Homo sapiens: one gene and its partners. The protein of the gene in region 1 interacts with the protein of each later gene in a pairwise test. Each region holds a gene or a part of one and is shown on either strand. Other genes may lie near its edges. The genes, in order: H2AP, GLE1 and ATXN3.

Region 1 (2,787 bases):
CCACAAAATCATCCTCCAGAGATAAAATCAAGGGCGTGGCTAGACATCCTTTTGTTAGTGCCTTTAAGGGATCAAAAGATCAAAGTATTCAATCACATAGATGGTGTTTTGAAGAGATATGGGGTGTGCTTCTCAGAATAAGCAAGGAATAGAGATGGGATTTTCTATGAGGGATCTTGAAGAAGCCTCTTGTCTAATGGCATGAATCCCCATGACATACATAAAAGGCCTGTAAGTTTTTGACAATGTTATATCAGCAGAAACAATGCCAGCTTAGACTGAAAGGGACAAATAGAGGAAGAAATGAAAGAAGTCTACAGGACTCTCAAAATTTGACAGGAGGAAGCAGGCTGATAAAACTACTCAGCTGTAAACATATGCTACCATTCAAAATAAAGGAACAATGACTGAGGGCAGAACCTAGAGGCCAGAGGGCAGATTTATGACCCCAGGTGAAGTCATAGGATCAGAGTCATCAAAGGGAGGAGTCTCAAGCCTTAGAATATTCTCAGGCCTTGAAACCTAATGGTTGGATTTTGAAAATGCTTGGATTTGAGACTCCTTTTTCTTTCCACTTTTTCCCTTGTGGAATGGCAAAGTTATTGGCTGTAAATGAACCAAAGTCAAAGGGAAAACACAGAATTAGTAGAGAAGAAAATTAAATAATAGAAAAGAAACATCTCTTAGTGCTTTGGCTTCACCTAGGAGGGACAAGAAATACACATCTGGGCTTAAACTGAGCACAAGATGCACTTCTCTATCAACTGTTTACCTGGCACTGACAGGTAAACTTATTGAACATCTTATTATTATTATTATTTTTGAGACCGAGTCCCGCTCTGTCTCCCAGGCTGGAGTGTGGTGGCACGATCTCGGCTCACTGCAAACTCCACTTCCCGGGTTCACACCATTCTCTGGCCTCAGCCTCCCAAGTAGCTGGGACTACAGGCGCCCGCCACCACGCCCGGCTAATTATTTTTATTTTTATTTTTATTTTTAGTAGAGACGGGGTTTAACTGTGGTCTCGATCTCCTGACCTTGTGATCCACCCACCTCTGCCTCCCACAGTGCTGGGATTACAGGAGTGAGCCACTGCGCCCGGCTGAGCATCTTATTATTAATTGAAAAATGACTAAAATATATTTTTCAAATGGGGTAAAATCATGACACTCATACAGATATGAAATGAACACATGCTAAAAGAAAAAGATGTTATGACTGCTTCAAAAGGGAAACCAAAGAGTTGATATGGGAATATTCATCAGTAATATTAAATGATTGTGTAAATGGAGGCAAAACTGGTTTCATAAGGTGAAGAACAACCGAACCTCTACTAAAGAATATGCTGTACATGTATCAGCAGCCTACAACTAACAAAAGGCTATAAAAGACTTCACAGATAATGTAAGGCTGGAATCAGATAACCTGCAGTGGTGTCCTAAAGACAGAGCAAAGTTTTCCACTGAAGCACACATTTATTTTTATAATGTCAAAATCAGGTAGAGAGTTATAGTTCCCTCAAAATCAAGGTTCAGTCATTAGCGTGACTAGATCAGTGTCATAGACATTTCTAGGCTGAGGTCTGATAAGGGACCAGTGGACACCAATGAAATCACAAAGTCTAGGGATGTCACAAAGGCAGCTAGCTCCCTGACCAATAAGGGCCTGGAGCAGAGGGATACAATAGGCAGGACTAAGCACTAGTGTCCTCAGAGACCTACTTGAGCTAGAGAATCAAGCAGAGCTGATGAGAGCCAAACCCAGCAAACATCATGTCAGAGAAAAAGAACTGTAAGAACTCGTCTACAAATAACAACCAGACTCAAGACCCTTCTAGAAATGAGCTACAGGTCCCTAGGAGCTTCGTGGACCGCGTTGTGCAAGATGAACGAGACGTCCAAAGCCAGAGTTCCTCCACAATAAATACCCTCCTTACCTTGCTCGATTGCCTTGCTGACTACATCATGGAGCGGGTAGGCTTGGAGGCCAGCAACAATGGCAGTATGCGCAACACTTCACAAGATAGGGAGAGAGAAGTGGACAACAACCGTGAGCCCCACAGCGCTGAGAGTGATGTGACTCGCTTTTTGTTTGATGAGATGCCCAAATCCAGGAAGAATGACTGAAGACTGGGTCCCAGAGCCTTGAAGGGAACCTCACAGGCTTAGCCAGGGCAAAAATGTGTCACAGCTGAGGAATATCTGCTGTTGTCATCAACAAGTGCTATTAAAGGATGTAAATCCATGAGTATGTTTCTGACTCCTCTCAGTTTCTGTCGCTTTGGGTTGTAGGTGTCTGTAAGACATCCAGGGGAAGCTATCCCCAGAGAGCTGAAGGCGGGGAAGGGGTGGCCAGTGTGGTGTTTGAATCAGTGATTTAGAGGGGGCAGTTTCCAATGGTGACAGTGAGGGCGCCGGCCCTGTGGGGAGGAACTGGCTGGGATAAAGACACCGAGACTTCCTCATTGTCTCTGAACAGGAAGGCCTTGTGAGGCCAGGGAGTTGGCTGGGGGCCTCTGAGGCTTGTTGAATTCCCAGCCTGATGCTGGGGCCTGAGGTGGAGCTGCAGACTCTGACTGAGGTGCAGGAGGCTTTATTCAGGATAGCAAAGGTCTGAAGTCAGAGGGCGGTGGCCACAGGGGTGGGTGGAGAGGGGCACACTGGCTGGCATGAAGTTCATGGGACAGGGGCTTTACATGGAGATTGAAGAGTGAAGGAGAAACCATCATGAAAAATGCAAAAAAGAAATGATGGCCTGCTGGATTTCATTTCTTATTTCTTTATGCCC
Region 2 (3,835 bases), on another chromosome or scaffold:
AAGAGTGAAACTCTGTCTCAAAAAAAAAAAAAAAAGGCCAGGCGCGGTGGCTCACATTTGTAATCCCAGCACTTTGTGAGGCTGAGGCGGGCAGATCACCTGAGGTCAATAGTTCAAGACCAGCCTGGCCAACATGGTGAAACCCTGTCTCTACTAAAAATACAAAAAATTAGCCAGGTGTGGTGGCAGGTGCCTTAATCACAGCTACTCGGGAGGCAGAGGCAGAAGAATCGCTTGAACCCGAGAGGCGGAGATTGCCTGAGATCGTGCTATTGCTTTCTAGCCTGGGCGACAAGATGGAAATTCCATCTCAAAAAAAAAAATTAGCCGGCTATGGTGGCATGTGCCTGTGGTCCTAGCTACTCAGGAGGCTGAGGCGGGAGGATCACTTGAACCTGGGTGGTGAAGTTTGCAGTGAGCCTTGATCATACCACTGTACTCCAGCCTGGGTGACAGAGACTCTGTTTCCCAAAAAAAAGCAATTTATCTCTAATTTGTCACCCTTATTTTGGCCTTGTCCCAGTGAATTTTTTCTTATTTCTTTTTTTTGAGACACAGTCTTACTGTTACCCAGGCTGGAGTGCAGTGATGCAATCTTGACTCACTGCAACCTCCACCTCCCAGGTTCAAGCAATTCTCATGCCTCAGCCTCCCAATTAGCTGGGACAAACAGGCATGCACCACCATACCCAGTTAATTTTTGTATTTTTAGTAGAGATGGGGTTTCACCACATTGGCCAGGCTAGTCTTGAACTCCTGGCCTCAAGTGATCTGCCCACCTTGGCCTCCCAAAGTGCTGGGATTACAAGCGTGAGCCACCACACCCGGCCAAATTTTTTCTTCCCGTATAGGATGCTTGGTTACCAAGTAAAGGATTCCAAAGTGGAGCAGCAAGACAACTTTCTAAAACGCATGTCAGGGATGATCCGTCTCTACGCTGCTATCATCCAGCTCCGGTGGCCATATGGAAACCGACAGGAGGTAGGTAAAAGAGGCTTACTGTCAATAATGAGAGGTTAGACCACAGTCCATGTGTATTCCTCCCACAGGAAATGTTGGCCTTCTTTCAGAGAGCCAGTCTAGTTAAAGGATAAACTATATGGCAGTTTCATGGGTATTATGTAGAGGACTGAATGTTGATTATTAGGGAACTTTCTTGGATCACCTGGTACTTTAAAGAGCTGGTTTTGTAACAGAGTCTACCAGAGGAGAGTCTGTTATAAATCAGTCATTAAGGTTAGAAGATTTTCTTACAAGAGGAATGAGCAAGAAATTGTCATCTTAGAACTAGTTGAGACCTTAGAAGCCATCTAGATCACATACCTTACTTCACAGATGGACAGAACAAGCTCAGAAAGCTGCAGCTGGGGTTCAGGGCTTTGACTTGCCAGCCCAATTAATTTCTCAGGGAATACAGATTAGAAGGACAGAGAAATTAATAGTTACGGAGACCTAAAGAGAAAAAATAGAAGTTGATTAAATCCAAGTTTTTATTGTATGCCTGCTGTGTCCCAGGTTCTGTGCTAAAGGTACCAAGAATAATAAATAAAATGTCAATAAGGCTAATTGTTACCCTATGGAATGCCTGAAACTGAAGCTGACACATGCATATTGAAGGGAGCCTATAAAGAATGTGTGGGAACCAATGTATTGAAACATTAAAAAATAGAAGGCGAGGTAGCTTCAGGCCTGATATCCCAGCACTTTGGGAGGCTGAGGTGGGTGGATCACCTAAGGTCAGGAGTTCAAGACCAGCCTGGCCAACATGGTGAAACCCCGTCTCTACTAAAAATACAAAAATTAGCTGGGCATGGTGGTGGGCACCTGTAATTCCAGCTACTTGGGAGGCTGAGGCACGAGAATCGCTTTAACCCAGGAGGCAGAGGTGGCAATGAGCCGAGATCACGCCATTGCACTCCAGCCTGGGCAACAAGAGCAAAACTCTCCCTCAAAAAAAAAAAAAAAAAAAAAAAAAGAATGTGTGGGAACCAATGTACTGAAACATTTAAATACAGAAGGCTGGGCGAGGTAGATTCATGCCTGTAATCCCAGCCCTTTAGGAAGCCGAGACAGGTGGGTCATTTGACTCCAGGAGTTTGAGACCAGCCTGGGCAACAAGGTGAAACCATGTCTCTAAATAAAATACAAAAAAATTAGCTGAGCACGGTGGCATGTGCATGCCTGTAGTCCCAGCTACTTGGGAGACTGAAGTGGAAGAATCACTTGAGCCCAGGAGGTGAAGGCTGCAGTGATCCATGATCGCACTATAGCACTCCAACCTGGACAACAAAGTGAGACCCTGTCTCAAAAAAATAAAAGAAAAACAGAATTTGTTTAGTTTGTGTTATTTCTGCCCTGTGGCAGGTGCTAGGGCTGGATGATCTGGGGTTCATTTCCACTTGGTAATGGCTGGATGATACACTGGGAGTTTAGATTTCTAAACAAAATGAGATCAATGATAACCAAGCTTCTCTACTCCCAGATTCACCCTCATGGCTTAAATCATGGATGGCGCTGGTTGGCACAGATCTTAAACATGGAGCCCTTGTCAGATGTGACAGCCACCCTCCTCTTTGACTTCCTGGAGGTACGTAACTCAGTTATCACACAAGAGAAGGCCAGTGGTTGAGGTAGCCTTGATCCACTGGGTGACATGAATGGGGAAACAGCATAGCATTTGGGCCTGATAGTAAAACAGCATGAGGTTCCAGTGTCATACATTTTTCCCAAGCTGTAGACCAACCTTGCTTTCACTTTTACTCCATACTATATTTACTTGGCTTCTCTGGATTTTTTTCATTATAAAGAACAGAAAATTGTACATTCTAGCAAAAGTGAAAAGAGGAATTTGTTTTAGGGATATAGAAGGGACTCCCAGGCCGGGTGCGGTGGATCACACCTGTAATCCCAGCACTTTGGGAGGCCAAGGTGGGCGGATGACATGGGGTCAGGAGTTCGAGCCCAGCTGGTCAGTATATTGAAACCCTGTCTGTACTAAAAATACAAATAAAGGCCGGGCACGGTGGCTCACGCCTGTAATCCCAGCACTTTGGGAGGCCGAGGTGGTTGGATTACCTGAAGTCATGAGTTCAAGACGAGCCTGTCCAACATGGTGAAACCCCGTCTCTACTAAAAATAAAAAATCAGCCGGGTGTGATGGTGCACACCTGTCATCCCAGCTACCGAGGAGGCTGAGGCAGGAGAATCGCTTGAACAGGATCTCACTCTGTCAGCCAGGCTGGAGTGCATTAGTGTGATCATAGCTCACTGTAGCCTCAAACTCTTGGGCTCAAGCGATCCTCCCACCTAACCCTGCCAAAGTGTTGAGATTACAGGAGTGAGCCATTGCACTCAGCCAAGAAGACACTTCTTATAGAAGAAAGCCTTGGGGTACATGCCATAACAAATCTGGAACCATTTGATCTATAGTGCCAATAGTTCCTAGTTACCTTAATAGCTCCTGACGTCAGCCAGGTGCAGTGGCTGACAGCCTTTGGGAGGCCAAGGCAGGCGGATCACTTGAGCTCTGGAGTTCAAGACCAGCCAGGGCAATATGGTGAAACCCTATATCTACCAAAAAAATACAAAAATTAGTGGTGTGTGCCTGTGGTCCCAGTTACTGAGGAGGCTGAGGTTGGAGGATCACCTGAGCCCAGGGAGGTTGAGGCTACAGTGAGCTGTGATCATGCCAGTGTCCTCTAGCCTGGGCGACAGAGTGAGACCCTATTTCAAAAAAAAATAAAAAGCTCCTGAAGTCACCATACATGAACAATGATCCTGTATCATTTGAGAACACAAGTGGTATTCTGTATACTCTCCTTACTAAGTTTGGGAG
Region 3 (3,600 bases), on another chromosome or scaffold:
TAAGGCCAGCCTGGACGACATGGTGAAATCCCGTGTCTACTAAAAATACAAGAATTAGCCAGGCATGGTGGTGTGTACCTGTAATCCCAGCTACTTGGGAGGCTGAAGTGGGAGAATCGCTTGAACTCAGGAGGCAGAGGTTGCAGTGAGCAGAAATTGTGCCATTGCACTCCAGCCTGGGCAACAGAGCAAGACTCCATCTCAAAAAAAAAAAAAAAAAAAAGCAAGATTGGCCGTGTGCTAGTATTTGTTGAATCTGGGTCATAAACAGGAGTATGCTAGTTTTTCTACTTTTGTATAAATTTGGAGTTTATTATAATAAAAAAGTTAATTTTGAAACTTAAAAGTAAAAAGCACTAATAAGCACTACTTTGAAATTTAACATATAATTAGCCATTAATCTATACTGAATAAAGACTAGAAATATCTCACATTAAGAGGATGTCAGCTGATCAGAATTTTCCTTCATCTACTTCTGAGTTGTGACTTAAAAACAAAACAGAAAAAAAGGTAAATATTTTCTTCATTATACCATCAAATGTAAAATGAGCCAATATTTATAGGTGCTGCTAATATACTGTCAATTATGACTGTAAGATGCTTCTCAATTTCAGAGACATTGAAATGTGAAACTATGTGCATCTCAGAATGGATGAAATACAGCAAATAGTAAGTCAGATTGAGCTATGACTCTGTTTTCTGACCTAGGATCAGTGGGTCTGATTATTTATCTTGTAATCTTTAACATGAAGTTTTCTTTCTCTTTTTTTTTGAGACGAAGTCTCGCTCTTGTCCCCCAGGCTGGAGTGCAATGGCGTTATCTCAGCTCACTGCAACTTCTGCCTCCCAGATTCAAGCGATTCTCCTGTCTGAGCCTCCCAAGTAGCTGGGATTACAGGCACCCACCACCATGCCCGGCTAATTTTTGTATTTTTAGTAGAGATGAGGTTTCACCATGTTGGTCAGGCTGGTCTTGAATTCCTGACCTCAGGTGATCCACCTGCCTTGGCCTCCTAAAATGGTGGGATTACAGACGTAAGCCACCGTGCCCAGCCTTTTATTTTTCTTTAAAAAAAAAAAGTGGGGGACAAAAGTCTGAATGATAGTTACTTGAAAAGAATGTATTTTCATATGGTGGAATTCCTATTTAGCAAGCACTTACAAGGCTGGGCACAAGGTAAGGTTTTAGGAGTTGATCCAGATTTATGGTTTGCATCCATTCCCCTGATGCTAACAGGCTTACAGGACTGCCTGAAGCGGCCATGAGCAGCTAAATGAACTACCACGTCTATTTGGGAATGCGCTCCCATACCTCCAAAGCTGTTTTTCGTACTGATTGGTAGAGGAATTTTGCAGGGTTAATCAGGTAAGCAAGAAGTACATCCAAAGGATCAATTGGCATTCTTCTTGTCTTGTCCTAATTTCATTTTTCTTTTAATAAATGAAATTTTATAAGGTTTCCTTCACTCAGTTTAAAAAATTTATCCAGTATTGGGGCAAGGTTTTTTTGTTTCATGTTATTTGCCGTAAATTTTTATTTTTATTTATATATATATACATATATTTTTGGAGACGGAGTCTCACTCTGTCACCCAGTCTGGAGGGCAGTGGTGCGATCTCGGCTCACTGCAACCTCCACGTCCCGGGTTCAAGCAATTCTCCTGGCTCAGCCTCCCAAGCAGCTGGGACTACAGGCGCACGCTTCCATGCCCAGCTGATTCTTTTGTATTTTTAGTAGAGATGGGGTTTCACTGTGTTGCCCAGGCTGGTCTCGAACTCCTGACCTCAGGCAATCTGCCCGCCTTGGCCTCCCAAACTGCTAGCATCACAGGCGTAAGCCACCGTGCCCGTCCTATTTGCTGTAAATTTTTAAAAAATACATTCAAATATTCACAGGATTCAGGCAGTAACCATTTACAAATAGACAAAATAGCCAAAGCAAATATTAAACATGCTACTTTAACTTGTACCAACTACTTTACTTTTCAAAGTAGGCTTCTCGTCTCTTCCGAAGCTCTTCTGAAGTAAGATTTGTACCTGATGTCTGTGTCATATCTTGAGATATGTTTCTGGAACTACCTGAAAACAAAACACAACACAACAAAAACCAATCACTGTATTTACCAATTCAAGCAACAATATGTTTGTTTATACTCATTTGAGTAAGCCTTTAAAACGTTTTCTCTTTAAGAATATTCTACTCTTCTGGCTGGGCGTGGTGGCTCACACATGTAATCCCAGCACTTTGGGAGGCCAAGGCAGGTGGATCACCTGAGGTCAGGAGTTCAAGACCAGCCTGGCCAAAAGGGCAAAACCCTATCTCTACTAAAAGTACAAAAAATTAGCTGGGCGTGGTGGTAGGCGCCTGTAGTCCCAGCTACTCAGGAGGCTGAGGCAGGAGAATCGCTTGAACCTCGGAGGCAGGGGTTGCAGTGAGCCAAGATCACTGCACTCCAGGCTGGGCGACAGTGAGACTCTGACTCAAAAAAAAAAAAAAAAAAAAAGAAAGAAAAAAAAAAAAGAAAGAAATCTAAAGCTGATTTCTGTCCCTGCTAATCCAGCAGGACTCTATTAATCAAAAATGGGATTGCACACCATATGGAGTACTCAGAGGCATGCATAGAGGCAAGAAAAGTTCAGGATAAAAATAATCTTCCCATTAATGAAATTTCAATTTTATTTAGATATCTAAGGAAATCAACTGATAAATAATTTCATTAGAAAGTAGAAGCAAATACATATGAGTTAGAAAAAAATAAAACAAAAAACCCACTTCAAACTTTTAATTAAGCTACTTTGAGCTATGTCTTAACATTTTTCTTTGCCTAGATTGTCTAGGGGATATGTTTTCGCTTTTCTCTATTGATAGTTTATATCACTAAAAAACTGGGCCCACCAAAGTGGGCTTACGGTTTAAGTTGCATAGCCAATAAATGTTGGGTTTTTGTAAAATCAGTTTATATTCCCTGTCCAGGCCCTTCCATAGTGTCTAATGGCACATATTTATGTAACAGCTGATTTGGATAAGGGTCAACTGATACCCACAAAGATTAAAACCACAATTTACTATTGTGTTAGTACAGTGTTGAAACCAAATAAAATAACCAGGAGTAAAAATATAACTACTCCTAATAAAATATAGGTTGTAAAAAGTGATTTCCATTATAAGAAATCTAAAGGGAAAGCCCACTATATAGCTATTGCTTCTGCAGTAATTGTCAAAACACCTCTAAGAGTACATTAACTTCCATGAAATCTAAGAATAATTGGAATCAATTCTTCAGCAATGAATACAACACACATCAGAATGTCTTTACCTTGCATACTTAGCTGAATAGCCCTGCGGAGATCTGCTTCCTCATCTTCCATGTCAATTTCTTGGCGACTTAGTGCCAGAGCCCTCTGCAAATCCTCCTCATCTTCGTCTAACATTCCTGAGCCATCATTTGCTTCTAACACTCGTTCCAGGTCTGTTTTATGGACTCTAAAGAACAAAAGCACTGGTAATAACTGCAACCAATCTTCTATTTTAGACATAACATAAAGGCATTTGTAATGTAAAGGCTTTAAGTAAGTCAAAACTTAAAATGTTTTCTGGCA

The links.
Region 2: the proteins of H2AP (region 1) and GLE1 interact in binary tests that used the Homo sapiens proteins (3 or more experiments, as listed by UniProt).
Region 3: the proteins of H2AP (region 1) and ATXN3 interact in binary tests that used the Homo sapiens proteins (3 or more experiments, as listed by UniProt).

Annotation. Positions count from the first base shown.
Region 1 is NC_000023.11:37,989,068-37,991,854, forward strand, and holds H2AP (huntingtin-interacting protein M), read left to right. Parts: upstream 1-1,711; 5' UTR 1,712-1,772; coding exon 1,773-2,126; 3' UTR 2,127-2,247; downstream 2,248-2,787.
Region 2 is NC_000009.12:128,535,504-128,539,338, forward strand, and holds part of GLE1 (mRNA export factor GLE1), read left to right. Parts: intron 1-851; coding exon 852-981; intron 982-1,323; exon of another isoform or gene 1,324-1,452; intron 1,453-2,482; coding exon 2,483-2,587; intron 2,588-3,835. UniProt on the Homo sapiens protein: Required for the export of mRNAs containing poly(A) tails from the nucleus into the cytoplasm. May be involved in the terminal step of the mRNA transport through the nuclear pore complex (NPC).
Region 3 is NC_000014.9:92,078,983-92,082,582, forward strand, and holds part of ATXN3 (ataxin-3 reference isoform), read right to left. Parts: intron 3,485-3,600; coding exon 3,318-3,484; intron 2,080-3,317; coding exon 1,983-2,079; exon of another isoform or gene 1,971-1,982; intron 487-1,970; exon of another isoform or gene 433-486; intron 1-432. UniProt on the Homo sapiens protein: Deubiquitinating enzyme involved in protein homeostasis maintenance, transcription, cytoskeleton regulation, myogenesis and degradation of misfolded chaperone substrates.